Regions from separate parts of the Homo sapiens genome. Here region 1 is linked to region 2. Evidence: fine-mapped expression QTL. A gene starts in region 2. The other region holds a variant in brackets. All regions are shown on one strand. Distances are between the middles of the regions.

The links.
Region 1: its variant is fine-mapped to the expression of LINC00630 in tibial nerve (GTEx, PIP above 0.99).

The regions. Positions count from the first base shown.
Region 1 is chrX:102,184,227-102,200,124 of GRCh38, reverse strand. It overlaps the pseudogene TCP11X3P. Among named protein-coding and RNA genes, the nearest start is that of TCP11X1, 23 kb to the left of the region's middle. The variant T/C (reference allele first, on the strand shown) is at 8,819.
Region 2 is chrX:102,761,753-102,777,650 of GRCh38, reverse strand. It overlaps LINC00630 (long intergenic non-protein coding RNA 630), which reads right to left and starts at 8,498. Exons shown (of 12, transcript NR_146589.1): 1 at 8,310-8,498. All of the region lies in intron 8 of ARMCX5-GPRASP2 (ARMCX5-GPRASP2 readthrough), which reads right to left.

The sequences.
Region 1 (15,898 bases), 580 kb after region 2:
ACAAATATTTTATATATTAATGATAAAATTATATCCAGACATTAAAGTAAATCTCCTGAGATCTTTAATTAGATTCACCTTTGATTGGTCCTAATTCTTGACAGTAGTTGAAATTATTAAAACAGCATTTCAAAGAAATCTTTCATGACCTCAAATTTTCAGTGACTGGGACTGGCTTTCCGGTAAGTTTGAATTAGTAAGTCTGAATTAATATCAATTTACTTTTGAGTACCTCCTGAGTGATTAGGACACAGAATGTGGAGTGAGACTGACCAAAGACAAATCATCGTTTCACTATATACAAGCTCAGTAACCACTTAGCCAAGTGACCTCTGTGCTTCAACTGTCCTCATCTGTAAAATTGGAATAATAATAGCACAAATGTCATAAAGTTATGACAATTAAATGTGTTAACCTTTTAAAGTACCTGGAACATTTTAATCATTATACTTTTTATCAACATAATAATTAAAACAGACTTAATTGGTTTGCTTTAATTTCCTTTAAGCCTGCATTAAATCAACAGTACTTAATCTGTACCAAATACCATGCCTAGGTTCTTGCAGCACTCCCTATGTTATGACTGTGGTTATAGTTTTATGAAGGACCTATTTTACTGTTATGTGTTAATTTGTTATGTATTAAATTTAATGTGTTAGTAGAAAACAGCATATTAAATGATCACAATAAAAAGGGATGGGGTAGCTAAAGGCGAAGTTCATGTGCTGTGAAGGCCACCTGGAGGCACCACCTTCACTGTGGAGCCCAGGAACATAGGCAATCCCGGATCTCCATGTGTCATGAATCAGATAGACCCCTGAAGCATGCAGAACACTAGGACACTACTGCCAATGAACTCTATTGTCATGAGGCAGAAATAGCCCTTCCAGGCAAGTGAACATTGCAGGCTTCTAATGCTATGGCTCATGTGAATACTACAATCATGTGGCCTCCTACTTTCATGTGGCAATGAGGCCCTCATAATTATGTGGGCACCACAGGTACTCTACTGCTGTTGGTCACATGGATACCATGTGGCTTAGTCTGTTTGGGCTACTATAACAAAATACCATGGACTGTGTAGTCTATAAACAACAGAAATTTATTTTTCACAGTTCTGGAGGCTGGAAAGTCCAAGGTCAAGGCACTGGCAGATTCAGTGTCTGATAAGGGCACTGGCCATATTTTCACTCTAACCTCACATGGAGGAAGGGGAAAGGGATCTTTCTTGGGCCTATTTTGAAAGGACACTAATCCCATTCATGAGGGCTCTACCCTCATGACTTAATCAACTCCCCAGAGTCCCAGCTCCTAATAACATCACCTTAGGGTTTAGGATTTCAGCATATGAATTTTGGGGGAACACAAATATTCAGACCTTAGCACTCTGATCATGTGCTCCCTTATAGTCATTAGGCAGGCTAAACTCTTTGTATTGTGTAAAAACTGTAGACTTTGGAACCCTATGAGTCATGTGAATATTGCCCCCCTTATGGCCCTCACTATTGTGTGGCAGGTTCAGCTCTCTCATCCAGGTGAAGTCACATGAATCCTGTGGGCATGGTCACAGTCCTATGGCCATGTACCATGCCTAGCCCATTAATAGAAACTTCTGAACTGGATCTAATCTTTTAGCCCTCTGTAAATTCAGACCTACAGATGCAGAAAATTGTCAGAACTGTAGTCCATGCTCAGGCAAAACTTTGATCGGACTGTGGCTCAGATCCCAACCTTTCTACCAAATTTTACATCCTGCCTCAGTGGACAGTACTTGGGTATCAGGAGTGATAGCAAATATTAGAAGTTTACTCAGCAAATTGGACACTGAGGGAGCCAAATGGGTCCAAGTGGCAGAGGGACACAGAGGGTTGGTGGAGGGAGGGAGACTTCCTCAGGGTTTGTGGACAAATTTGGCAGATTCAGTGTCTGATAAGGGCCCTGGCTGTTATTGGTAGAGAGGGATGTGGTGTTAGCGGGGGGAAACACTATGAGAGGTATAGGTCATGGACTTGTAGATCATCTGTCTGTGGCAGGGCTCTGGAAGGCTGGTAATTAGTTAAGTCTGAATTAATGTCAATTTACTTTTGGCTACCTCCTTAGTGATTAGGACACAGAATGTGGAGTGAGACTGACAGAGACAAATCATCATTTCACTATATACAAGCTCGGTGACCACTTAGCTAAGTGACCTAATACCTCTGTGCTTCAACTGTCCTCATCTGTAAAATTGGAATAATAATAGGGACACCATACCCTACCCCTCTCCCATCCCTGCAATAAAGCCCGGTACTTGCCTACCCCCCTGCCATATTAACTGTCTGTGGAGATTAATTATCATAATCACCTGTATGTGATGTATCAATTTCCTCCTCCCCTGTTTACACTCCCATAAATGTGTGATGACCTGCTCTGCTCCTCTTCTGCCTATGTTTTTGTTAAGGACATCAGAGATTTTCTAGATGCCAATATGTACAGCATATCCTAAATCAGCTTAATTTCTCTCTTAATTGATTTTGTAATGATTATCTTTATACCCTTATTAATTCTCCCAGTAAACATTCTAAACATGTGCTCAGGGAACAAGCATAACAGAGAGAGTGAAGGAAAAGGAAGAGAAAGGAGAGAAAGGAAGGAAATGAAAGGAAAGGAGGAGACAGGTGATGTGTGTTTTAGTTTTTAAAGAATTTGATATTTTGATAAAAGTGAGAAAGTTGCAATCATGCAAAGATTCAGAATTGATTTCTTGTATTTATGTTGCAGGTTAGTACTTTTACAAAGTATATTTGGGGGTAGAACATAACAATGCTTTGTGCTTAGGATCAGTAAATGGTTTAAACCAATGCAGCCAGATACTATTCCTTTCTAGCTTACCGCCTGTATTAGTCTGTTTTCACACTGCTATAAAGAAATTCCTGAGGGAGGAGGTTCCAAGATGACCGAATAGGAAGAGATGCAGTCTACAGCTCCCAGCGTGAGTGATGCAGAAGACGGGTGATTTCTGATTTCTGCATTTCCAACTGAAGTACCAGGTTCATCACACTGGGGCTTGTTGGACAGTGGGTGCAGCCCACGGAGTGTGAGCTGAAGCGGGCGGCGGGGGCGGGGCATGGCCTCACCCGGGAAGTGCAAAGGGTCGGGGAATTCCCTTTCCTAGCCAAGGGAAGCGGTGACAGATGGTACCTGGAAAATTGGGACACTCCCACCCTAATGCTGCTCTTTTCCAATGGTGTTAGCAAATGGCACACCAGGACATTATATCCTGTGCCTGGCTCGGAGAGTCCCACACCCAAGGAGCCTTGCTCACTGCTGGCACAGCAGTCTGAGATCAAACTGCAAGGAGGAAGTGAGGCTGGGGGAGGGCGTCCACTATTGCTGAGGCTTGAGTAGGTAAACAAAGCGGCCAGGAAGCTCGAACTGGGTGGAGCCCACCGCAGTTGAAGGAGGCCTGCCTGCCTATGAAGACTCCACATCTGGGGGCAGGGCATAGCTGAACAAAAGGCAGCAGAAACTTCGGCAGACTTAAACATCCCTGTTGGACAGCTTTGAAGAGAGTAGTGGTTCCCTCAACAGCGAGTTTGAGATCTGAGAACAGAGAGGCTGCCTCCTCAAATGGGTCCCTGACCCCAGAGTAGCCTAACTGGGAGACACTCCAAGTAGGGGCCAACTGACACCTTATACAGCCGGGTGCCCCTCTGAGACAAAGCTTCTGGAGGAAATATAAGGCAGCAACATTTGCTGTTCTGCAATATTTGCTTTTCTCCAGCCCTGGCTGGTGATACCCAGGCAAACAGGGTCTGGAGAGGACGTCTAGCAAACTCCAGCAGACCTGCAGCTGAGGCTCCTGACTGTTAGAAGGAAAACTAACAAATGGGACATCCACACCAAAACCCCATCTGCAGATCACCATCATCAAAGACCAAAGGTAGATAAAACCACAAAGATGGGGAGAAACCAGAGCAGAAAAGCTGAAAATTCTAAAAATCAGAGCACCTCTTCTCCTCCAAACGAACGCAGCTCCTCACCAGCAACAGAACAAAGCTGGATGGAGAATGACTTTGACAAGTTGATGGAAGTAGGCTTCAGACGATCAGTAATAACAACCTTCTCCAAGCTAAAGGAGGATGTTTGAACACATTGCAAAGAAGCTAAAAACCTTGAAAAAAGATTAGACAAAAGGCTAACTAGAATAAACAGTGCAGAGAAGAACTTAAATGACCTGATGGAGCTGAAAACCATGGCATGAGAACTATGTGACGCATGCACAAGCTTAAGTAGTTGATTTGATCAAGTGGAAGAAAGGGTATCAGTGATTGAAGATAAAGTGAATAAAATGAAGCAAGAAGAGAAGTTTAGAGAAAAAAAGAGTACAAAGAAACGAACAAAGCCTCCAAGAAATATGGGACTATGTGAAAAGACCAAATCTATATCTGATTGGTGTACCTGAACGTGACAGGGAAAATGGAACCAACTTGGAAAACACTATTCAGGATATCATTCAGGAGAACTCTCCCAACCTAGCAAGGCAAGCCAACACTCAAATTCAGGAAATACAGAGAACACCACAAAGATACTCCACAAAAAGTGCAACTCCAAGACACATAATTGTCAGATTCACCAAAGTTGAAATGAAGGAAAAAATGTTAAGGGCAGCCAGAGAGAAAGGTCAGGTTACCCACAAAGGGAAGCCCATCAGACTAACAGCTGATGTCTCAGCAGAAACTCTACAAGCCAGAAGAGAGTGGGGGCCAATATTCAACATTCTTAAAGAAAAGAATTTTCAACCCAGAATGTCATATACAGCCAAACTAAGCATCATAAGTGAAGGAGAAATAAAATCCCTTACAGATAAACAAATACTGAGAGATTTTGTCACCACCAGGCCTGCCCTACAGGAGCTCCTGAAGGAAGCACTAAACATGGAAAGGAACAAATAGTACCAGCCACTGCAAAAACATGCCAAATTATAAACACCATCGATGCTAGGAAGAAACTGCATCAACTAACAAGTAAAATAACCAGCTAACATCATAATGACAGGATCAAATTCACACATAACAATATTAACCTCAAAGGTAAATGGGGTAAATGCTCCAATTAAAAGACACAGACTGGCAAATTGGATAAAGACTCAAGTGTGCTGTATTCAGGAGACACATCTCATGTGCAGAGATGCACACAGACTCAAAATAAAGGGATGGAGGAAGATCTACAAAGCAAATGGAAAACAAAAAAAGGCAGGGGTTGCAATCCTACTCTCTGATAAAACAGACTTTAAACCAACAAAGATAAAAAGAGACAAAGAAGGCCATTACATAATGGTAAAGCGATCAATTCAACAAGAAGAGCTAACTATCCTACATATATATGCACCCAATACAGGAGCACCCAGATTCATAAAGCAAGTCCTTAGAGACCTACGAAGAGACTTAGACTCCCATACAATAATAATGGAAAACTTTGACACCCCACGGTGAACATTAGGCAGATCAACGAGACAGAATGTTAACAAGGAGATCCAGGACTTAAACTCAGCCCTGCACCAAGTGGACCTAATAGACATCTACAGAACTATCCACCCCAGATCAACAGAATATAGTTTCTTCTCAGCACCACATCGCACTTATTCTAAAACTGACCACATAATTGGAAATAAAGCACTCCTCAGCAAATGTAAAAGAACAGAAATTATAACAAACGGTCTCTCAGACGACAGTGCAATCAAACTAGAACTCAGGATTAAGAAACTCACTCAAAACCGCTCAACTACATGGAAACTGAACAATCTGCTCCTTAATGACTACTGGGTACATAACGAAATGAAGGCAGAAATAAAGATGTTTTTTGAAACCAATGAGAACAAAGACACAACATACCAGAATCTCTGGGACACATTCAAAGCAGTGTGTAGAGGCAAATTTATAGCACTAAATGCCCACAAGAGAAAGCAGGAAAGATCCAAAACTGACACCCTAACATCACAATTAAAAGAACTAGAAAAGCAAGAGCAAACACATTCAAAAGCTAGCAGAAGGCAAGAAATAACTAAAATCAGAGCAGAACTGAAGGAAATAGAGACACAAAAAACCCTTCAAAAGATTAATGAATCCAGGAGCTGTTTTTTTGAAAGGATCAACAAAATTGATAGACCGCTAGCAAGACAAATAAAGAAGAAAAGAGAGAAGAATCAAATAGATGCAATAAAAAATGACAAAGGGCATATCACCACCTATCCCACAAAAATACAAACTACCATCAGAGAATACTACAAACACATCTATGCAAATAAACTAGAAACTCTAGAAGAAATGGATAAATTCCTCAACACATGCACTCTCCCAACACTAAACCAGGAAGAAGTTGACTCTCTGAATAGACCAATAACAGGCTCTGAAATTGTGGCAATAATCAATAGCTTACCAACCAAAAAGAGTCCAGGACCAGATGGATTCACAGTCGAATTCTACCAGAGGTAGAAGGAGGAGCTGGTACCATTCCTTCTGAAACTATTCCAATCAATAGAAAAAGAGGGAATCCACCCTAACTCATTTTATGAGGCCAGCATCATCCTGATACCAAAGCCGGGCAGAGAAACAACCCAAAAAGAGAATTTTAGAACAATATCCTTGATGAACATTGATGCAAAAATCCTCAATAAAATACTGGCAAACTGAATCCAGCAGCACATCAAAAAGCTTATCCACCATGATCAAGTGGGCTTCATCCCTGGGATGCAAGGCTAGTTCAATATATGCAAAACAATAAATGTAATCCAGCATATAAACAGAACCAAAGACAAAAACCCCATGATTATCTCAATAGATGCAGAAAAGGCCTTTGACAAAATTCAACAACGCTTCATGCTAAAAACTCTCAATAAATTAGGTATTGATGGGACGTATCTCAAAATAATAAGAGCTATCTATGACAAACCCACAGCCAATATCATACTGAATGGGCAAAAACTGGAAGCATTCCCTTTGAAAACTGGCACAAGACAGGGATGCCCTCTCTCACCACTCCTATTCAACATAGTGTTGGAAGTTCTGGCCAGGGCAATTAGGCAGGAGAAGGAAATAAAGGGTATTCAATTAGGAAAAGACGAAGTCAAATTGTCCCTGTTTGCAGATGACATGCTTGTATATCTAGAAAACCCCATTGTCTCAGCCCAAAATCTCCTTAAGATGATAAGCATCTTCAGCAAAGTCTCAGGATACAAAATCAATGTACAAAAATCAGAAGCATTCTTATACACCAATAACAGACAAACAGAGAGCCAAATCATGAGTGAACTCCCATTCACAATTGCTTCAAAGAGAATAAAATACTTAGGAATCCAACTTACAAGGGATGTGAAGGACCTCTTCAGGGAGAACTACAAACCACTGCTCAATGAAATAAAAGAGGATACAAACAAATGGAAGAACATTCCATGCTCATGGGTAGGAAGAATCAATATCGTGAAAATGGCCATACTGCCCAAGGTAATTTATAGATTCAATGCCATCCCCATCAAGCTACCAATGACTTTCTTCACAGAACTGGAAAAAACTACTTTAAAGTTCATATGGAACCAAAAAAAAGCCCGCATCACCAAGTCAATCCTAAGCCAAAAGAACAAAGCTAGAGGCATTGCGGTACCTGACTTCAAACTATACTACAAGGCTACAGTAACCAAAACAGCATGGTACTGGTACCAAAACAGAGATATAGATCAATGGAACAGAACAGAGCCCTCACAAAAAACGCTGCATATCTACAACTATCTGATCTTTGACAAACCTGACAAAAACAAGCAATGGGGAAAGGATTCCCTATTTAATAAATGGTGCTGGGAAAACTGGCTAGCTATATGTAGAAAGCTGAAACTGGATACCTTCCTTACACCTCCTACAAAAATTAATTCAAGATGTATTAAAGACTTAAATGTTAGACCTAAAACCATAAAAACCCTAGAAGAAAATCTAGGCATTACCATTCAGGACACAAGCATGGGCAAGGACTTCATGTCTAAAACACCAAAAGCAATGGCAACAAAAGCCAAAATTGACAAATGAGATCTAATTAAACTAAAGAGCTTCTGCACAGCAAAAGAAACCACCATCAGAGTGAACAGGCAACCTACAAATTGGGAGAAAATTTTCAAAACCTACTCATCTGACAAAGAGCTAATAGCCAGAATCTACAATGAACTCAAACAAACTTACAAGAAAAAAACAAACAACCCCATCAAAAATGGGCAAAGGATATAAACAGACACTTCTCAAAAGAAGACATTTATGCAGCCAAAAGACACATGAAAAAATGCTCATCATCACTGACCATCAGAGAAATGCAAATCAAAACCACAATGAGATACCATCTCACACCAGTTAGAATGGCAATCATTAAAAATTCAGGAAACAGCAGGTGCTGGAGAGGATGTGGAGAAATAGGAACACTTTTACACTGTTGGTGGGACTGTAAACTAGTTCAACCATTGTGGAAGCCAGTGTGGTGATTCCTCAGGGATCTAGAACTAGAAATACCATTTGACCCAGCCATCCCATTACTGGGTATATACCCAAAGGACTATAAATCATGCTGCTATGAAGACACATACACATGTATGTTTATTGCGGCACTATTCACAATAGCAAAGACTTGAAACCAACCCAAATGTCCAACAATGATAGACTGGATTAAGAAAATGTGGCACATATACACCATGGAATACTATGCAGCCATAAAAAAGGATGAGTTCATGTCCTTTGTAGGGACATGGATGAAATTGGAAATCATCATTCTCAGTAAACTATCACAAGGACAAAAAACCAAACAC[T/C]GCATGTTCTCACTCATAGATGGGAATTGAACAATGAGAACACATGGACACAGGAAGGGGAACATCACACTCTGGGGACTGTTGTGGGATCGGGGGATGGGGGAGGGATAAAATTAGGAGATATACCTAATGCTAAATGACAAGTTAATGGTTGCAGCACACCAGCATGGCACATGTATACATATGTAACTAACCTGTACATTGTGCACATGTACCCTAAAACTTAAAGTATAATAATAATAAAAAAAAGAAACTGCATCAATTAACAGGCAAAATAACCAGTGAACATCATCATGACAGGACCAAATTCACACATAACAATATTAACCTTAAATGTAAATGGGCTAAATGCTCCAACTAAAAGACACAGACTGGTAAATTGGATAAAGAGTCAAGACCCATCAGTGTGCTGTATTCAGGAGATGCATCTCACATGCAAAGAGGCACATAGGCTCAAAGTAAAGGGATGGTGGAAGATTTACCAAGCAAATGGAAAGCAAAAATAGAAGGGGTTGCAACCCTTGTCTCTGATAAAACAGACCGTAAACCAACAGACATCAAAAGGGACAAAGAAGGCCATCACATAATGGTAAAGGAATCAATTCAACAAGAAGAGCTAACTAACCTAAATATATATGCACCCAATACAGGAGCACCCAGATTCATAAAGCAAGCCCTTAGAGACCTAAAAAGAGGCTTAGACACCCAAACAATAATAATGGGAGACTTTAACACCCCACTGTCAATATTAGACAGATCAACGAGACAGAAGGTTAACAAGGATATCCAGGACCTGAACTCAGATCTGCAAAAAGCAGATCTAATAGACATCTACAGAACTCTCCACCCCAAATCAGCAGAATATACATTCTTCTCAGCACCACATCACACTTATTCTAAAATTGACCACATAATTGGAAGTAAAGCACTCCTTGGCAAATGTAAAAGAACAGAAATCACAACAAACTGTCTCTCAACCACAGTGCAATCAAATTAGAACTCAGGATTAAGAAACTCACTCAGAACCACACAACTACGTGGAAACTGAACAACTTGCTCCTGAATGACTACTGGGTAAATAACAAAATGAAGGCAGAAAGAAAGATGTTCTTTGAAACCAATGAGAACAAAGACACAATATACCAGAATCTCTGGGACACATTTAAAGCAGTGTGTAGAGGGAAATTTATAGCACTAAATGCCTACAAGAGAAAGCAGGAAAGATCTAAAATCGACACCCTGACATCACAATTAAAATAAATATAGAAGCAAGAGCAAACACATTCAAAAGCTAGCAGAAGGCAAGAAATAACTAAAATAAGAGCTGAACTGAAAGAGATAGAGACACAAAAAAACCCTTCAAAAAATCAATGAATCCAGGCGCTGGTTTTTTGAAAACATCAGCAAAACTGATAGAGTGCTAGCAAGACTAATAAAGAAGAAAAGAGAGAGGAATCAAATAGATGCAACAAAAAATGATAAAGGGGATATCACCACCGATCTCTCAGAAATACAAACTACCATCAGAGAATACTATAAACACCTCTACGCAAATAAACTAGAAAATCTAGAAGAAATGGAAAAATTCCTGGACACATACACTCTCACAAGACTAAACCAGGAAGAAGTCAAATCTCTGAATAGACCAATAACAGGCTCTGAAATTGAGGCAATAATTAATAGCCTACCAACCAAAAAAAGTCCAGGACCAGATGGATTCACAGCAGAATTCTACCAGAGGTACAAGGAGGAACTGGTACCATTCCTTCTGAAACTATTACAATCAATAGAAAAAACACATGAAAAAATGCTCATCATCACTGGCCATCAGAGAAATGCAAATCAAAACCACAATGAGATATCATCTCACACCAGTTAGAATGGCGATCATTAAAAAGTCAGGAAACAACAGGTGCTGGAGAGGATGTGGAGAAATAGGAACACTTTTACACTGTTGGTGGGACTGTAAACTAGTTCAACCATTGTGGAAGTCAGTGTGGCGATTCCTCAGGGATCTAGAACTAGAAATACCATTAGACCCAGCCATCCCATTACTGGGTATATACCCAAAGGACTATAAATCATGTTGCTATAAAGACACATGCACACGTATGTTTATTGCGGCATTATTCACAATAGCAAAGACTTGGAACCAACCCAAATGTCCAACAATGATAGACTGGATTAAGAAAATGTGGCACATATACACCATGGAATACTATGCAGCCATAAAAAATGATGAGTTCATGTCCTTTGTAGGGACATGGATGAAATTGGAAATCATCATTCTCAGTAAACTATCGCAAGAACAAAAAACCAAACACCGCATATTCTCGCTCATAGGTGGGAATTGAACAATGAGATCACATGGACACATGAAGGGGAATATCACACTCTGGGGACTGTTGTGTGGTGGGGGGAGGGGGGAGGGATAGCATTGGGAGATATATCTAATGCTAGATGACGAGTTAGTGGGTGCAGTGCACCAGCATGGCACATGTATACATATGTAACTAACCTACACAATGTGCACATGTACCCTAAAACTTAAAGTATAATAAAAAATAAAAATAAAAAAAAGAAAAAGAGGGAATCTTCCCTAACTCATTTTATGAGGCCAACCTCATCCTGACAACAAAGCCTGGCAGAGACACACACACAAAAAAGAGAATTTTATACCAATATCCCTGATGAACATCCATGCAAATATCCTCAATAAAATACTGGCAAACTGAATTCAGCAGCACATCAAAAAGCTTATCCACCACGATCAAGTCGGCTTCATCCCTGGGATGCAAGCCTGGTTCGACATATGCAAATCAATAAATGTAATTCATCACATAAACAAAACCTTTGACAAAAACCACATGATTATCTCAATAGATGCAGAAAAGGCCTTTGACAAAATTCAACAGCCCTTCATGCTAAAAACTCTCAATAAACTTGGTACTGATGGAACGTATCCCAAAATAATAGAGCTATTTATGACAAATCCACAGCCAATATCATACTGAATGGGCAAAAACTGGAAGCATTCCCTTTGAAAACTTGCCCAAGACAAGGCTGCCCTCTCTCACCATTCCTATTCATTGTGGTGTTGGAAGTTCTGGCCAGGGCAATCAGGCAAGAGAAATAAATAAAGGGTATTCAATCAGGAAAAGAGGAAGTCAAATTGTCCCAGCTTGCAGACAGCATGATTGTATATTTAGAAAACCCCATTGTCTCAGTCCAACGTCTCCTTAAGCTCATAAGCAACTTCAGCAAACTCTCAGGATACAAAATCAATGTGCAAAAATCACAAGCATTTCTATACACCATTAACAGACAAACAGAGAGCCGAATCATGAGTGAACTCCCATTCACAAATGCTACAAAGAGAATAAAACACCTAGGAATCCAACTTACAAGGGATGTGAAGGACCTCTTCAAGGAGAACTACAAACCACTGCTCAATGAAATAAAAAAGGACACAAACAAATGGAAAAAATATTCCATGCTCATAGATAGGAAGAATCAATATCCTGAAAATGGCCATACTGCCCAAAGTACTTTATAGATTCAGTGGCATCCCCATCAAGCTACCAATGACTTTCTTCACAGAATTGGAAAAAACTACTTTAAAGTTCATATGAAACCAAAAAAGAGCCCGCAATGCCAAGTCAATCCTAAGTCAAAAGAACAAAGCTGGAGACATCATGCTACCTGACTTCAAACTATACTACAAGGCTACAGTAACCAAAACAGCATGATACTGATATCAAAACAGATATATAGGCCAATGGAACAGAACAGAGGCCTCAGAAATAACATCACACATCTACAACCATCTGATCTTTGACAAACCTGACAAAAACAAGAAATGGGGAAAGAATTCCCTATTTAATAAATGGTGCAGAGAAAACTGACTAGCCATATGTAGAAAGCTGAAACTGGATCCCTTCCTTACACCTTATACAAAAATTAATTCAAGATGGATTAGAGACTTAAATGTTAGACCTAAAACCATAAAAATCCTAGAAGAAAACCTAGGCAATACTATTCAGGACATAGGCATGGGCAAGGACTTCATGTCTAAAACACCAAAAGCAATGGCAACAAAAGCCAAAATAGACAAATGAGATCTAATTAAACTAAAGAGCTTCTGCACAGCAAAAGAAACTACCATCAGAGTGAACAGGCAACCTACAGAATGGGAGAAAATTTTTGCAATCTACCCATCTGACAAAGGGCTAATATCTACAAAGAACTCAAACAAATTTACAAGAAAAATACAAACCCATCAACAAGTGGGCGAAGGATATGAACAGACACTTCTCAAAAGAAGACATTTATGCAGCCAACAGACACATGAAAAAATGCTGGTCATCATTGGCCATCAGAGAAATTCAAATCAAAACCACAAAGAGATACCATCTCACGCCAGTTAGGATGGCAATAATTAAAAAGTCAGGAAACAACAGATGCTGGAGAGGATGTGGAGAAATTGGAATGCTTTTACACTGTTGGTGGAAGTGTAAATTGGTTCAACCATTGTGGAAGACAGTGTGGCGATTCCTCAAGGATCTAGAACTAGAATTACCATTTGACCCAGCAATCGCATTACTGGGTATATACCCAAAGGATTATAAATGATGCTACTATAAAGATACATGCACATGTATGTTTACTGAGGCACTATTCACAATAGCAAAGATTTGGAACCAACACAAATGTCCATCAATGATAGACTGCATTTAGAAAATGTGGCACATGTACATATGTGGAATACTACGCAGCCATAAAAAAGGATGAATTCACGTCCTTTGCAGGAACATGGATGAAGCTGGAAACCACCATTCTCAGCAAACTATCACGAGGACAGAAAACCAAACACCGTGTGTTCTCACTCATAGTTGAACCCCCAAAATAATGAGGACATGATTTTTTTCACCCAGTTTGGTTCTATCCCATAAGTAAGTTTCTATTTTCCCCTGTCCATTCTAAATCCAAAACTTCCGAACCTAATTTTTTTCCTAATTTTCTAGATTGCTGCTTGACTGCTGCAGTTGGCCTGAGAATGATGGGTGAACCTCCACAGTCTCTAAAAATAAACCCAAGTCCCTGTGGACCAAGAACATTTTTATCATTTGTGATGCTGAGTCAGCTGATATTCATAACCTGGCAGTTGGAGCCCCAGACTAGGAGTGACTCCTAGAATCACTTGAAAGAAAGAGAAATCCCGTGGAAGCTGAGACCTGTCCTTAGCTGAATGCCTGTTGGCACAAAGTTGATATTCACAATATCAATTTTCAACCAATCCCCATTTTTCATACTGCTTCAAACCAGACACTAGGACAGGAGTTGAGAACTCTTACTATTGCTGTATCCTTGAAAATTTAAGGGAAATATGGTGCTAGAAATGGAGTTTTGTCTTCTCTTCATCTGCAATTCAGTGAATTTCTGACTTCCAGAAGCCCTTATATTCATTCTCTGGATAATCCCACAAAGAGTTTTCACCGTCCGTCAAGAAAATGATTTTTCAATGGAGAAAATAATGCTAGTGACTGTAGTTTAATGAGATCCCCCCTCCTCCACCAGATTACTTAAGGCTGTACATCTGCTGCCTGAACCCTGAAGGCCAGGTGGTGATCCAAGGCCATGCATGGTGCCCAGCTTAGAAGCCGAGGTGTCCCTGAGAATCAAAACATCAAAACATCCCAGAGCATACCGGGAAACATACCAAGAAAAAGAGTCTCATTGCATGTGGAAGGCAAGAGCCAGAAAATTAGCTTAAAAGCAGTTTGCAGAGGAGTGTCAGGGCAGATCCCCGGAGCTGTCCTGCTGCCACCCAGGAATGTCCTATCCGTAAGTCCCAATAAATTCATCTGCTTATCAAGCTGAACTTGTCTGGGTCATTCTTTGGTCTCTTAGCTCCTTCGCAGTTTTGGGGAGGCATTATTCTATACAGTACCAGTATTTTCCCTTATCAGTACCTGATGCCCTGATTCTGGCTCAGGCCAGCATACTGAAGAATGATCAGCCAGTGAAGGGAAACCGGAGGGCCCACTGGATTCTCATTCAGCTAGTTAGGGGATGAGGGTGTAGAACCTGGCTTCAGCTAGAGCACAGGAGGAACTGAAATTTTCTTGCAGCTCAGAAGTTTATTAGTGAAGGGGATTGGGCCAGTTGGTGTTTACATGCTTGACCCCTGCATCCCTGTGTCCTGGCTGTAGTGAGGAGGTGATGTCATTCCAGAAACATACTGACCTTTCTCTCCTGTTGCCATGGCTGGGGTGCAGCACTATCTGTTTCTTGTGCTTGAGCTGGATGGATGATGTTTTTTAGGATCTCAGCATAGTACGGGCCAAATACCTGCTGATTATGATACTTCAGAATGACAAACTTCCAACCCAGTTCTGCCAGCTCCCCTTCAATGAGAATGAGGCCTCCAGGAAAGTGTAGCAGAGACTCCTGCATGCCATGAAGCAAACAGCATTTAAGAAACAAACAGATCCGCTGATCCGTGAGCAGGGAAAAACAATGAAGAGAGGAAAAAAGAGGGTTCAGAATAAATTCTTTTTTTTGTTGTTCTCATTTTTCTTTTCTTTTTTTAAATTATACTTTAAGTTCTAGGGTACATGTGCACAACGTGCAGGTTTATTACATATGTATACATGTGCCATCTTGTTGTGCTGCACCCATTAACTCATCATTTACATTAGGTATATCTCCTAATGCTATCCCTCCTCCCTCCCCCAACTCACAACAGGCCCCAGTGTGTGATGTTCCCCTTCCTGTGTCCAAGTGTTCTCATTGTTCAATTCCCACCTATGAGTGACAACATGCGGTGTTTGGTTTTTTGTCCTTGCGATAGTTTGCTGAGAATGATGGTGTCCAGCTCCATCCATGTCCCTACAAAGGACATGAACTAAAGAAATTCACAATGTCTTTGCACTATCTGCTCACCAAAGTTTTACGTTAACCAGTTTATTCACTGACCTCTCCGCTCATTTGGGTAAACCGTATAAGTTAGATTTTTGTTTGTTTTGGGGAAGTGAATGCCATCAGGCTCCCAAAGGACAGTGCATGATCAAAAGATGC
Region 2 (15,898 bases):
GACCCAGCCATCCCATTACTGGGTATATACCCAAAGGATTATAAATCATGCTGCTATAAAGACACATGCACACGTATGTTTATTGCGGCACTATTCACAATAGCGAAGACTTGGAGCCAACCCAAATGTCCAACAATGATAGACTGGATTAAGAAAATGTGGCGGCCGGGCGCGGTGTCTCACGCCTGTAATCCCAGCACTTTGGGAGGCCGAGGCGGGTGGATCATGAGGTCAGGAGATCGAGACCATCCTGGCTAACAAGGTGAAACCCTGTCTCTACTAAAAATACAAAAAATTAGCCGGGCGCGGTGGCGGGTGCCTGTAGTCCCAGCTACTCGGGAGGCTGAGGCAGGAGAATGGCGTGAACCCGAGAAGCGGAGCTTGCAGTGAGCCGAGATTGCGCCACTGCAGTCCGCAGTCTGGCCTGGGCGACAGAGCGAGACTCCGTCTCAAAAAAAAAAAAAAAAAAAAGAAAATGTGGCACATATACACCATGGATTACTATGCAGCCACAAAAAATGATGAGTTCATGTCCTTTGCAGGGACATGGGTGAAGCTGGAAACCATCATTCTCAGCAAACTATCACAAGGACAAAAAACCAAACACCGCATGTTCTCACTCATAGGTGGGAATTGAACAATGAGAACACATGGACACAGGAAGGGGAACATCACACACCGGGGCCTGTTGTGGGCTGGGGGGAGGGGGGAGGGATAGCATTATGAGATATACCTAATGTTAAATGACGAATTAATGGGTGCAGCACACCAACATGGCACATGTATACATATGTAACTAATCTGCACGTTGTGCACATGTACCCTAAAACTTAAAGTAAAAAAAAAAAAAGAAAAAAACAAGTAATGAGATTAAAGCCATAGTAAAAAGTCTCCCCAGTGATAACGGTTTGGCTCTTTGTCCCCACGCAAATCTCATCTTGTAGCTCCCATAATTCCCACATGTTGTGCGAGGGACCTGGGGGAAGATGTTTGAATTATGGGGATAGGTCTTTCTCATGCTGTTCTTGTCATAGTGAACCGGTCTCATGAGATCTGATGGTTTTAAAGATGGGAGTTTCTCTGCACAAGCTCTCTCTCTCTGTTTGCCTGCTGCCATTCATATAAGGTGTGACTTGTATCTCCTTGCCTTCCACCATTATTGTGAGGTTTCCCCAGCCATGTGGAACTGTTAAGTCCAATTAAACCTCTTTCTTTTGTAAATTGCCCAGTCTCAGTCTGGGGTATGTCTTTATCAGCAGTGTGAAAACAGACTAATACACCCAGTAACGAAAAAGTCCAGGACCCCATGGCTTTACTGCTAAATTCTACCAAACATTTAAAGAGAACTAATACCCAAATCCTACTCAAACTATTCCAAAAAACAGAAGGAAGGAATACTGCCAAACTCATTCTATGAGGACAGTATTATTTTGATACCAAAACCAGACAAAAACACACTAAAAAAAAACTATAGGCCAATTTCTATGATGAATATTGATGCAAAAATCTTCAGCAAAATACCAGCAAAACCCAATTCAATGATACATCAAAAAGATCATTCATCATGACCAAGTGGGATTTATCTTTGGGATGCAAGGACAGTTTAACATATGCAAATCAATCAATGTGATATATCATGTCAACAGAAAGACAAAAACCATATGATCATTTCAATTGATGCTGGAAAAGCATTTGATAAAATTCAACATCTCTTTCTTGATAAAAACCCTAAAAAACTGGGGTAGAAGGAACATACCTCAACATAATAAAACCCATATTGACAGACCCACAGCTAGTATCATACTGAATGGGAAAAAAAATTGAAAGCCTTTTCTCTAAGATCTGGAACATAATATGGCCGGCCACTTTCACCACTGTTATTTAATACAGTACTGGAGCTCTTAGCTAGAGCATCCAAAGAAGAGAAAGCTATAAAGTGCCTCCAAGTTGGAAAGGAAGAATTAAAATCATCCTTGTTTGCAGATGACATTATCTTATATTTGGAAAAACCTAGACTCCACCAAAAAACTATTCATACTAATAAATAAATTCAGTAAAGTTGCAGGATACAAAATCAACATGGAAAAATCAGTAGCATTTCTATATGCCAACAGTGAGCAATCTGAAAAAAAAAATAAAAATGTAATCCCATTTACAATAGCCACAAACGAAATAAAATACCTAGGAATTAACCAAAGAAGTGAAAGACCTCTATAATGAAAACCACAAAGGACTGATGAAATAAATTGAAGGGGACACCAGAAGATGGAAAAATATCCCTCGTTCAGGCACTGGAAAAATCAATATTGTTAAAATGCCCATACTACCCAAAGCAATCTACAGATTCAATGCAATTCCTATCAAAATACCAATGACAATCTTCATAGAAATAGAAAAAAAGTACCCTAAAAGGGATATAGAACCACAAAAGACCCAGAATAGCTAAAGCGATCCTGAGCAATAAGAATAAAAGTGGAGGAATCACATTACCTGACTTCAAATTATACTGCAGAGCTATAGTAACCAAAACAGCATACTACTGTCATAAAAACAGACACATAGATGAATGGAACAGAATAGAGATCCCGGAAAGAAATGCATACGCCTACAGTGAAATCATTTTTGATAAAGGTGCCAAGAACATATACTGTAAAGACAGTACCTTCAATAAATGGTCCTGGGAAAACTGGATACCTATATGCAGAAGAATGAAACTAGACCCCTATCTCTCATCATGTACAAAAATCAAATCAAAATGGATTAAAGAATTAAATCTAAGACCTCAAACTATAAAACTACTACAAGAAAACTTTGGGAAAACTCTCCAGAACATCAGTCTGGGCAAAAATTTCTTGAGTAATACCCCACAAGCACAGGCAACCAGAGCAAAAATGGACAAATAGCATCACATCAAGTTAAAAGGCTTCTGCACAGCAGAGGAAACAATCAACAAAGTTAAGAAACAACCACAGAATGGGTAAAAATGTTTGCAAACTACCCATCTGACAAGGAATTAATAACCAGATGTATAAGTATCTCAAATAGTTCTATAGGAAAAAATATAATAATCTGAATTTAAAATGGGCAGGCCGGGCACGGTGGCTCATGCCTGTAATCCCAGTACCTTGGGAGGCCAAGGTGGGTGGATCACGAGGTCAAGAGATCGAGACCATCCTGGCCAAAATGGTGAAACCCCATCTCTACTAAAAATACAAAAATTAGCTGGGCATGGTGGCATGCGCCTGTAGTCCCAGCTACTCGGGAGGCTGAGGCAGGAGAATCGCTTGAACCCAGGAGGTGGAGGTTGCAGTGAGCCGAGATTGCGCCACTGCACTCCAGCCTGCTGACAGAGCAAGACTCCGTCTAAAAAAAAAAAAAAAAAAAAAAATATATATATATATCTGAATAGACATTTCTCAAAGGAAGACATACAAATGACAAACAGGCATATATAGGTGCTCAACGTAATGAATCATCAGAGAAATGCAAATCAAAACTACAATGAGATATCATCCCTTCTCAGTTAAAATGGCTTATGTCCAAAAGACGGGCAATAACAATTGCAGGTGAAGATGTGGAGAAAAAAGAACCCTCGTACACTGTTGGTGGGAACGTAAATTACTACAACCATTGTAGAGAACAGTTTGGAGGTTCCTCAGAAAACTGAAAATAGAGCTACCCATGTGATCCAGCAATCCTACTCTGGATATATACCCAAAAGAAAGGAAATCAGTATATTGAAGAGACATCTGCACTCCCATGTTTGTTGCCACTCTGTTCACAATAGACAAGAGTTGGAAGAAGCCTGTGTCCATCAACAGATGAATGGATAAAGAAAATGTGGTACTTATACACGATGGAGTACTACTCAGCCATAAAAAATAATGAGATCCAGTCATTTGCAAAAACATGGATGGAACTGGCGATCATTATGTTAAGTGAAGTAAGCCAGACATAGAAGGAGAAACCTTGCATGTTCTTATTTATTTGTGGGGTCTAAAAATCAAAACAATTTAACCTGTGGAGATAGAGAGTAGAAGGATGGTTACCAGAGGCTGGGAAAGGAATTGGGGAGGGTTGGGGAGAGATGGGGGATGGTTAACCAGTACAAAAAATAGAATGAAACGGACCTAGTATTTGATAGCACAACAGGGTGACTATAGTCAATAATAACTTAATTGTATATTTTAAAACAACTAAAAGAGTATAATTGGATTTTTTTGTAACAGAAAGGATAAATTCTTGAGGAGATACCCATTTTCCACGATGTGATTGATATGCATTACATGCCTGTATCAAAACGTCCCATGTACCCCATAAATACATACACCTACTGTATACCCACAAAAAATAAAAATAAAATAAACAATTATTTTAAAAAGAAGAGTAATTGAACCTCTGATTATAAAATTTCAAGTTTTATGCAATTACCAGGCTCTACCATCTTAACAAGCCCTGTTTTGGGGCAAAGTGTATAATAATAAATTAGATCTAGATTATATCATCTTTTGAATTGAGGGTGCTTTTTGTGTGCCATAATTCTCTTCTCTTTTTGTATTGGGAGAAATATTAAATAGGTGGAAACCAACCCAGATCCTGAACTTAAATCATGTAGGACTTTGGTCACTGAAAACATAAACAATTAATAGCTGCTGGCCAGGCGCGGTGGCTCACGTCTGTAATCCCAGCACTTTGGGAGGCTGAGGCGGGCGGATCACAAGGTCAGGAGATCCAGACCATCCTGACTAACACGGTGAAACCCCGTCTCTACTAAAAATTCAAAAAATCAGCCAGGCGAGGTGGCGGGCGCCTGTAGTCCCAGCTACTCGGGAGGCCGAGGCAAGAGAATCGCTTGAACCTGGGAGGCAGAGGTTGCAGTGAGCCGAGATTGCACCACTGCACTCCAGCCTGGGCGACGGGGCGAGACTTCGTCTCAAAAAAAAAAAAAAAAAAAATAGCTGTTATACTATTGAGATGTTCTGATCCCACATCAGGATTGTAAATCCCTATGGTTGATATGAACTCTAAGATATGATCATGCTGTTATCCCTAGGGTAACTTGTTCTATTGATCAAATTGCTTGGGTCAATAAATTATAACACACTTTTATGAATAACTAGTCTAGTCCGGGTTTTAATCATTCAGAGGTTGTACGGTGCTCTGAAGTTACCCCAACTGAAATTTTTAGCCCAGTAGATTAAATATTATTCCTTTAAATAGTTAATGTTTTTTGTGTGTGGCCTAATTAAGCTCCATTGGGTCGTCTTGTTTTATCGCCGCATGAGAATCACTAAAGTTAGAGACTGACCATACCAAGCACTGACGAGGTTGTGGAGGATGAAGCTCTGCTGAGACAATGAAAAATGGTACAACCACTTTGAAAACAGTTTGGCAGTTTCTTACAATGTTAGTCTTACATCTATAACATGTTCCAGCCACTGCAATCCTAAGTATTTACCCTAGAGAAAGAAAGCACATTTCTCTGTAAAGACTCATACACAAGATCCCCTAAATTGAATACAACCCAAATATCCATTAGCAAGTGAATGGACAAAACGAATTGTAGTATATCCTATACTGTAATGCTACTCTGTAATAAAAAAAAAAAAACTATTGAAATAGGCAATAAAATGGACAAATCTAAAAATACATAGAGTGAATGAAAGAAGCCAGATCCCTAAAAAAAAAAAATAAAAAAAAAACCTCTATGATTATTTTTAAATAAATGAAATCTAATCTATAATGACAAAAGTGCTGTATTTGTCTGGAGACAGGACAGTGGGAGGAATGGGTAGGCTGGGTACAACAGAACTGAAAATGTTATGTCCTTGAAAATAATAACAATGATATATAAGCCTATACGGTTCCTTTAGGGGACATGGCAGGGTATCATTAGAATAGGGCAAACTAGATACTGAAGGACCAAGAGGGCAGAGTAGGAGATATCAGCCTTCATCACCCCCTGCCACAAAAAAACAAGTGTAGACAGCTATCCACAAACTAAAGTATTCATGGGAGGGCTCAGGGGCCCATTTAAGAATCTGCAGCAACACAGTAGAAAAAAAAATGGGGAATATCCACACAGAAAATATTGCTGGTGAGATCAGTATACTTGAGGTGCCAGGAGATGTCTAGGAGCAAAGAAGAAAGGCAAAGGCTATTGCTATTAGCCATGTGGCAGGAATCACCATGGTCCCCAGCAGTCTGCTCTGGAGAGGACACTGGCATCTTTCGCCACTGAGATAACCAACAGCCATTCCTGCCCAAGGAACCCCAGAGAGGGAGAAGTGGCTACACACTTCTCATCTCAAGAAGCAGCAGCTATTATACCACTCTGGGACCAGAGGTGCCACCTGTCCCAATGCTGCATGTGTCACTGACCCCCCCAAGCTACAACTACTCTGTAAATACCCATACTCCAGACCCCAGCTCTGTGCCTGACTGTGCCTGCCCATGCCTCAGACACCAGAGCCACTGCCATAGAGACCTAGCAAAACACCTTCACTCTTCAGATAACTCCCTGAGAAAACATACCAATTAGAGGAACTAGGCTGGGATCCGGGCCCCTAAGCCAAGGTCACTTTGCACATGTCTGTACTCCAGACACTAGATTAACATCCATTGAAGGCTAGCCCATACTCCAGACCCTGGATAGGAAGAATAATCTCTAGTGTTCTATAGCATTATACTAAATTATCAAACAATAATTTAATGTATTTTTTCAAATAGCTAGAAGAGAAAATGTTGAATGTTACCAGCACATATAAATGATAAAGATTTGAGATGATGGATATGCTAACTACCCTGATTTTATCACTACACATTGTATACATATATTGAAATATCACAGTGTACCCCCATAAATATGTACAATAATCATGTGTCCATATATAATAAAATATACATTTTTCAAAGTAAGACATACAAGTGGCCAACAGATATGTGAAAAAATTCTCAATATCACTAATTGTCAGGGAAATGCACATTAAAACCATAACAAGATATCACCTCACACTTGTTAGGATGGCCATTATTTAAAAAAACAGAAGATGGTAAGTGTTCACAAGGATGTGGAAAAAAATGGAACCCTTGTACAATACTGGGAATGTAAATTTATACAGATATTACAGAAACAGTATGGTCATTCCTGAAAAAAACTAAAAATAGAATTACCAAATGATCCAGCAGTCCCCCTTCTGAGTATATATCCAAAGGAAATGAAATTAGTACCTCAAACAGATGTATGTACTCCCATGTTCACTGCAGCATTATTCACAATAGCCAGGGTATGGAATCAACCTAAGTATCCACCAACAGATGAATAAAGAAAATGTCATACATGCACACAATGGCGTACTATTCAGCTTTTTGAAAAAAGAAGGAAATCCTGTCATTTGTGACAACATGGATGAACCTGGAGGACATTAAGTGAAATAAGCCAGGCACAGCAAGACAAATACCACGTAATCTCACTTGTATATGGAATCTAAATAAGTTGAACTCATAGAAGCAGAGAGTAGAACAGTAATTACCAGACAGAGGCTGGGGAGGGGTTTGGGGAGATGTTGGTCAATGGATACAAAATTTCAGTTAGAGAGGAGGGATAAATTCAAGGGATCTATTGTACATCATAGTGACCATGGTTAATAAAAATATATTGTACACTTGAAAACTGCTAAAAGGGTAGATTTTAAGTGTTCACCACAAAAAAAAGTACATTAGGTAATGCATAGGTTTATTAGCTTGATTCAGCCATTCTACAATGTATAAAATATATCAAAACATCATATGACTTTTTAATTGACACTTTATAAGTTATAGTTCATAAACAAATTTATTATACAACAGATATGGGAGAATGCATATTATAATCTCAAATTGGTAGGAAGGCCTTCTAACTAACTTTATATTTCAACATTCATTTGATAGTGTTGATGGGAATCACTGGTTATTATTTATGCAGTCAGAAATATATATATAAACTTATCATAAATGCATGTTAAACATAAAGTTTCTCCCTTGTCTATACTGTAAGAAAGTTTGAAACAGAACAAGAAGAGGCCTGACTTCATACAGGCATTCCTGATCCTGCAATAACCACAGGGCTATCGTCTTGCACCTATGTTATCACTGAAGGTTTCAGCAATCCTGTGGGTGAGCATTTTTATTTCCATTTTACAGAGTGGGAAACTGGGCTCAGAGAGGGTCTTTACCTGTCTCATCCTCCCGCGTCCCGCCTTTACAGGGAAAGTAGCCCCGGGACACCCTGGAGCAGGACACCACACTCACTGGGGCCAGAAGAGACCCACCTCTCTCTCCTTCACGAAACAGCCAGAGCGCCGATCCCCAAAGTGGGAACGAGGGGACGTCGATCTGGGGTCCTTTCGTCTCCCTAAACCCCACGGAGATTCAGGCCACACTGCTGGGCACTCACAACCTCCACTGAGTCCAAACGCCTGAAGGCGGTTCTCCCCAGGCCAAATTGGTCTCAATAAAAAGTCGTCACCGTCGCTAATATGACGTCAGGTTACTATGGCAACCGCGTAGCACTGGCTTGTCTTCCACACCTGAAAATGACTATGCACAACCCGCTCCTCCATCCCCAGCCTATCCCTTAAAGCAAAACACCTTCATTCTTCAGATAACTCCCTGAGAAAACATACCAATTAGAGGCTGGGATCCGGGCAATTTTCAAGACTCTCTACTCATTATGGTAGAGGAAAGGAAGTCCATGTTGTCAGGAATTTTGCTTTAAAAGTGACCTAAGGGGGCCGGGCGCGGTGGCTCATGCCTGTAATCCCAGTACTTTGGGAGGGCGAGGCGGGAGGATCACGAGGTCAGAAGATCGACACCATCCTGACTAACACGGTGAAACCCCATCTCTACTAAAAATACAAAAAATTAGCCGGGCGTGGTGGCGAGCGCCTGTAGTCCCAGCTACTCAGGAGACTGAGGCAGTAGAACGGTGTGAACCCGGGAGGCGGAGCTTGCAGTGAGCCGAGATTCTCAAAAAAAAAAAAAAAAAAAAGTGACCTTAGAGGAGTATCATCAGTACACAGAAGCCCAGAGAGGTGTCCTAGGACTCTGGGAGATGAGCTAGCCCTCTGAGGAGGAACATGTACAACTCACACACTATACTAGGCAGTTGGTTTTCTGTGGCAGAAAACAGATTGTTTATAATCAAGTGACTGAATGATCTAGAAACACAAAAACTGTCATTTGAGTAATAATACAGTTATTTCAGGGAGGCCGGACTAGAATAATATAATCATTTAGTAGGCAGGAATCCAGTCAATTAAAACACACAGTAGTTTGCCTTAAGGAAATTTTTTTTTTTTTTTTTTTTTTTGAGACGGAGTCTCGCTCTATCGCCCAGGTTGGAGTGCACGGCGCAATCTCAGCTCACTGCAACCTCTGCCTCCCAGGTTCAAGCGATTCTCCTGCCTCAGCCTCCCGAGTAGCTGGGATTACAGGCGCTTACCACCACACCCAGCTAATTTTTATATTTTTAGTAGAGACAGGGTTTCACCATGTTAGTCAAGCTGGCCTCGATCTCCTGACCTCGTGATCCACCCGCCTCGGCCTCCCAAAGTGCTGGGATTACAGGCGTGAGCCACCGCACCCAGCCCTGCCTTAAGGAAATTCTTATCCTTCATTCCTGGTATGTTTTTCCATGTGGAAAATACATCCATGACAAAAATACATGTAGCCTCTACACACTCACTCCTCTCTACGGCAGGAATGACTTATCCGATTGGAGAATCTGGAAGGAGACACATGATACTCTGCCCAAGCCCTCTCCCTTCAACTTCTTGGTAGTAAGCTGCCCTTCAGGAGGCACTTGTTCAGCTTTGCCTTCAGGGATGGGACTTAAAATAGGCCCACAGGTTTACTCCTCTAACTGTGTCTCACTGACTCTACAATTATTCCTATAGTTCTTGATTCACAATGCTTAATTCTTTAAGGGGCCCCCAAAATACTCTTCTGCTTCTAGTCTGAGCTCTAAACCAACTGAGAAACATAGGAAAAGAATAAGGAGAAACATATATTGACTTTATCTCTTATAAGGTGATATTGGAGAATGTGACTTAGATTTGCTGTCACGTGGGCTTACTATGAGTAAGTTCTAGAATTGACTTATCCACCCAGCAGTGCTGCATTGGGACAGTCATAAAGACCAAGGACTGCAATGTATATCTATCTGCTGTCTCCTAAAGGAGCCCTGTCTATGTGTGCCCAAGGAAAGTTACTTCCTTGCCAAGGGTTATCACTATAGCAGGAGAAAGTGTTTCAGGACACTTTCTTTGAGAAACACTTCTAAAATTGTTCAGAATGAATACTCACTAAGACAACCTCTCAGGTTTCCTCATAGAATGGTTTGTAGCAATGCCCTCTCAGTATCTTAATTCACATGATTGCAGTGGGAATTCTTCTTAAGGAGTTAGGTTTCAAATTTTAAGACTAGCATGAAAAATAGATATCATGTAAATTGCCCTTGGGAATCCCTTCAAGAAGGAATTGATGACATGTTCAGAAATCTGTACCCACATGTAAGCCAACACTCAGATGATACAATTATAACCAAGTTTCACTAAGCCTTCAAGGATAAGAAAATTCCTTTCTTACCCAATGATAACACAACACAGAAAATGAGGAAAAGTTCACCAAAACCATAATGTTTTAGATATCCGTTCCTTCTTAACAAGCACCCTTAATTAATAGCCATTTATTTTCTCTCAGTATTTTGTGTGTTAACTGGGCCCAGCTGGATGTTTTCTGCTCTATATGATGTCTGTCACCTGGGGCTGCAGTCATCTGGAGGTTCCACTCATCTGGGACATCTGAGAGAGCTCACTCACATGAATGATGACTGGTGTTGGCGTCTGCTGGGAGCTCAGTTAAGGCTGTTGACCTGAGCATCTTGGCTCTCCACAGAGCCCTCCACGTGTACAGTTACCAGATTAAAATCAACTCAGTTAACTTTAAATTCCGGATTAATAGGAATATTTTTTAGTTTATGTGGCATGCAATATTAGTTTATTTAAAATTAAAATCCAACTGGATTTTAATTAAATAAATAAAAGTAAATGAAATAAATAACAAAATAAAAATTTTAAATCGTCTTATTATTTGCTAAATCTGGCAATTGCAGGGGATGACCCTGTGAATCTCTAAGTTTAATGACCATCTGAGCTGATTCTTCCAATGGGACAGGTCTGGGGAAAATGAGCAGATTGGATTGGCAATAAGGACAAAAGTTGGTAATACTTGGTGTTGGTGGAATGAAAAGCCAGCAGACGCTCACATATACTGTTGGTGCCAAGTGGATATATCTGTTTTCCAAGGCTCATATTATAACTTAAGACATTAATGATCTTTGATGCCAAAGTCCTATTTTTCCACCAACAAGGGAGTTTCAGCTGAGGGTTTAGAAAAGACTCATCAAGGTGACTACGATGTGCGCCCTCTTAAGGGGCCCTGGCTGAGGTGGCAGCTCAGAGTAACATGAGTTCCCTGCTTGGAGGAGGAAAAGACAGCTACTATTTTGTAAGGCAGATGGTTTAGCTGGGCCCAGCTCCAGTTTCTTCACATTAGTGTCTGGATTTAATCTCATGACAGCCGTGCTGGTGAGGTACCAGTATCCTCTCTTCCTCATGGATGTCAGTGACTATAAAGCACGTGCTCCTAAACACAGAGCTGAATGGCAAGGAGGTTACTCACCAGGCCCACTGCCAGAGCCAGGGATAGAACCTGCCAGCCTGGGCACCTTGAGTTGCTAGTGGTAGACCTTTAGCAAATGTATCTGGACATGTACTGTTAAGGAGGTTAATCTCTGTTCTCCTTGCTTACCCTCCCTGCAGTAAGGTTGGTGCCCCCTCTCCTTACTTCAGGGGAGGTTTGTGAGAGGGCTGACAGCAGAAGCCTTCTGGAGCCAGTTTTTCTTTCATCCTTTATGAAAACTTAATTTGTTGAAAGGACCGGGCTGCTTGTACCTGGTAGGGATGTGGGGGCCTCTCAGGACACAAAGATGGGAGAGGAAGGAAGATTTCTCCCAGACAGGGATGAGGCCTGAGGTCTACAAATCTCTCCAGGAGTTGGGACCTGAGCATTGCTCTGTATCAATGTTTGTGGTGAATTAGTGGATGGTCCTTCGAGTCTGGGCATCCATCCATGATTCAGATTTGATTTTCCTGTTTTGATCCAGGGGTAGATGACTCAGGATCTGGGACATGAAGGCACTGGGCCAACTAAGGAAATGGTCATCTCAGCCCTGAGCAGTGTGGACACGAGTGGTTACAGCAGGAGACTCTTGAGGCCATATCAGGAGGATACATTCCCAGAAGTGGAACTGTTTTGTCAAAGAGCATGACCATTTAATATTTTTAATGCTTCCTATATAGTTGAACTTTAAAATTTCTTTAATAGTTCTTATATTCCATCCAACAATTTGAAAACATCTGTTTTTCCTGATCTGTGCAAAAATAGGTTTCACAGATTTTTAATATTTTTTATTCTGAGATCCTGTTATTGGTACATTAGATTTTCTTTATTTTTCCCTATCGTATTATGTTTTAAATAGTGTATTTCACAGGTGCATTAAAAATGCTTAGCTAATGGTTCCATATTATACCTTAGAATATGTCTTGGAATAATTCTAGAGTTTGAAAAGAAAACCCAATCATCGAATTTGTGTTTATGTTGCATCCTGTTTGAATTGAAATGTTGGGGCCACGAGAAGCCCATACATAGCTTGGAGCGGACAAATTGGTACAACTTCTTTGTGGAGATATTGAGCAGCACCCACAATAGAAGCATGTGAGGCTCTGTCATCTGCTGCCCTCTCAGATGTGCATTGCAGAGTCTCGGTACATAGCAAACCTGTTCACAGGAGCATGGGTAAATATCAAAATAGTCCCAAAGTCACCTGGTTAGAAACATCTCAGAAACACTATTTTCAGAAGAAAACATTTCGATAATAGATATATAAATATGTTACTTATATAGAGATAAAAATATGCAAAGCAATTATGTGTTTAGTTTAGGGATGTATTCATGACTAAACAAGAAATTTTGGATAGTGGTTCCTTCTGAGGGCGCTGAGGCAATCAGGGAACTCACACAGGAGAGTCCACTCTGTAATGTTTTGCTTCATAACCTTGGTTGTGTACGTGTTTGCCTACTATCATATTTACAATACCTTTTGAAAAGTCTGAAATCTATCAAATTTGACATGAACAAAGCTCTAATGTGTTTTATCTCTGATTAATAAGTAACCCACTGTCTATTTAAAAAATGTGGAAAGTGCATTCAAATACCAATATGAATATTGATAATATCTAACCCCACCATGCACTAATAAAAACTGTAATTATGTTTCCACCAATTATCATCTATACACATGTGTACATGTAAACAAAAATACTGTGTATGCATTGAATAGATTTAACTTAACTGGAATGTATTAATTTATTGTAGGTGTGTAACCAGACTTAGTGTCTGAAAGCTACATCCATCTAGTAGCTCACAGGTCTGTAGGTCAGAAGACTGGTCCAGCATGACCTTATTCTCTGCTCAAGGTCTCACAAAGCTAGAATCAAGGTGCCCATGTTGGCTCCACTGAGGTCTCACGCGGATGATCTAGATAAAAATCTGCTTCCAAGATCATTCTTGCTGCTGGCAGAAGTCATTTCCTTGTGGCCATTGAACCGCAGTCCCCATTTCCTTGATGACTGTCAGTTGGGGATATTCTTAGCTCCTGGGGGCTAGTCCACTTGCCTGCCATGTGGCCTCCTTCTTCCATCCAGCAATGGCACATTGAAGGCTTCCTGTGCTTTGAATCTCTGACTTGCCCTACTCTAAACAGCAGGAGAAAATTCTCTGATTTTACAGGGCTTGACTAATTAGGTCAGGCCTATGCTGATCATCTCCCTTTTGCCATATAACAGAACATAATCGTGGATCATAATGTGTCTGGTCTTATGACTCTAGTCTTCCGTCCAGTATTCTTGTCATATTGCCCTGTGGTGTCCCTTCTACCTTAAAGTTAATGGGAAACTGCTCCTCCAGTGTCAAACTGAATGATAAATTAAGAGGATAGGAAGGCAGATGCAGTTATAGGAAATGGTATGGTGATTTATTTTTCCTTTTCCCCAGCTCTCACATGTAACTCATCCCACAACTCAGAACTGGCCCAAAGCTCATAGGTTATGGGGATATATTTCAGCTCTTGCTGCTACCTTTCCACAAGGTCTCAATAGCAGTAATGCCCTTTGGTTTAGGTCAATGTCATCTACTCTCTGGGAGGGAGGGGGCAAATAGCCAGACCTGTTATGTGCTGAAGTCCTACTATCTCCCATAGGCACTTGACAGGTTTTCTCATTTATCCCTCAGGACAGTACTCTGAAGAAGATAATGTGGTGCGTCTTATTTCACAGATGACCAAGCTCCTTCTCAAAGGGACTAAGACCCTCTCCAGAGAAGTGGCAGAAATGGAATGTGATTCCATTCTTTCCCTCCCCACAATAAAACCAGCAGCTTCCCATTTGGAAGTTTTACATTTCCCTAGTATTGTCCCCTAAAGGTACTCACTCAATAACCCCTCATGTTGAGGAAGATGATAGTGGAGATGAAATCTTGTTTTCTGGCCCATGAAACCTAGCTGTGAAGTTACATGTACCGGCAGGTCCTTAGGGTCCCTCTTAGGCCCACTTCTTTTGTCTGAATGTTTGTGTCTCCCACACATTTATATGTTGAAACCTAATAATCTTTAGGAGGTAGTTAGGCCATGAAGGCAGAGCCCTCATAAATGGGATTAGTGTCCTTATCAGAGGCCTGAGAGAACCTGTTTGCCACTTCACCATGTGAGCATGCAGCAAGAAGGTGTCATTTATGATGCAGACGGAGTCTTTACCACACTACAAATATTCTGGCATCTTGATCTTGGACTTCCTAGCCTCCAGAACTTTGAGTAATACATTTCTGTTGTTTACAAATTACCCACTTTCAGGTATTTTGTTATGGCAGCTCAAGTGCACTGAGGCACCCACTGACCCCACTCCACTGACATCAGACCTGGGCATGTGACTAGATGTGGCCAGTGAGCTATGAGGGGAAATGGAGTGTGCCCCTCCCAAGCAGAAGTGATAAGGGCCATCTAGGAGTCCCACCAGCACACTTTGACCTTCTGCCTCAGCAATGTCCCAGATTTCCTATGAGATAGTTTAATTCATTTAATCCTTCAGCAGCACTAGAATATGAGAACTTATATGATGGCAGAAATGCTTGGAAAGAGACAAGCCAAATGATTTATACCCAAAATTGGCCTGCTAGAAGATCCCCTCAACTCACATGCCCTAACACCAAGTCTGTAGCCAGGAGAAGGTATATGTTTTACCCACATCACACAGAAAGCAGTTTGTCAGGCTCTGGAAGCGACATCTTCTGCCTTTCACTCCATTGCTCTCTCCAGAAGACCCATCCTCATGCTCTGCTCTTCCCTGGGCATGTGTCTTTATGGAGCCACAGGAACAACCCAGATAACCAGTCAATGGCCACTCCTGATGTTCACTCTCCAAGGGGGGCCCAAAGAGGTCAGGAAAGGTACACTGATTCTAAAGAAATGGGGTGACATTTCCCCATGCCACCTACAATGCACGATGCCACAACACAGAAGAGGCACCAACTCTTACACATAATGTGGGTCTGTGTGAGTTTATTTTTCTTTCTGTTGCCTTGCTTTCAGAAGCTCTTTAGAACACAATTATGCTGCTTAGCACTATGTAGTTTAGGTTAAAGTCATCTCAGAAGCAGAAGTTAGAAAGGGGGATGGAAAGAAAACTAACATTTCAAGGGCCTACAATGGGCCAGACACTGTGTTAGGCACTTCACATACTGTTTC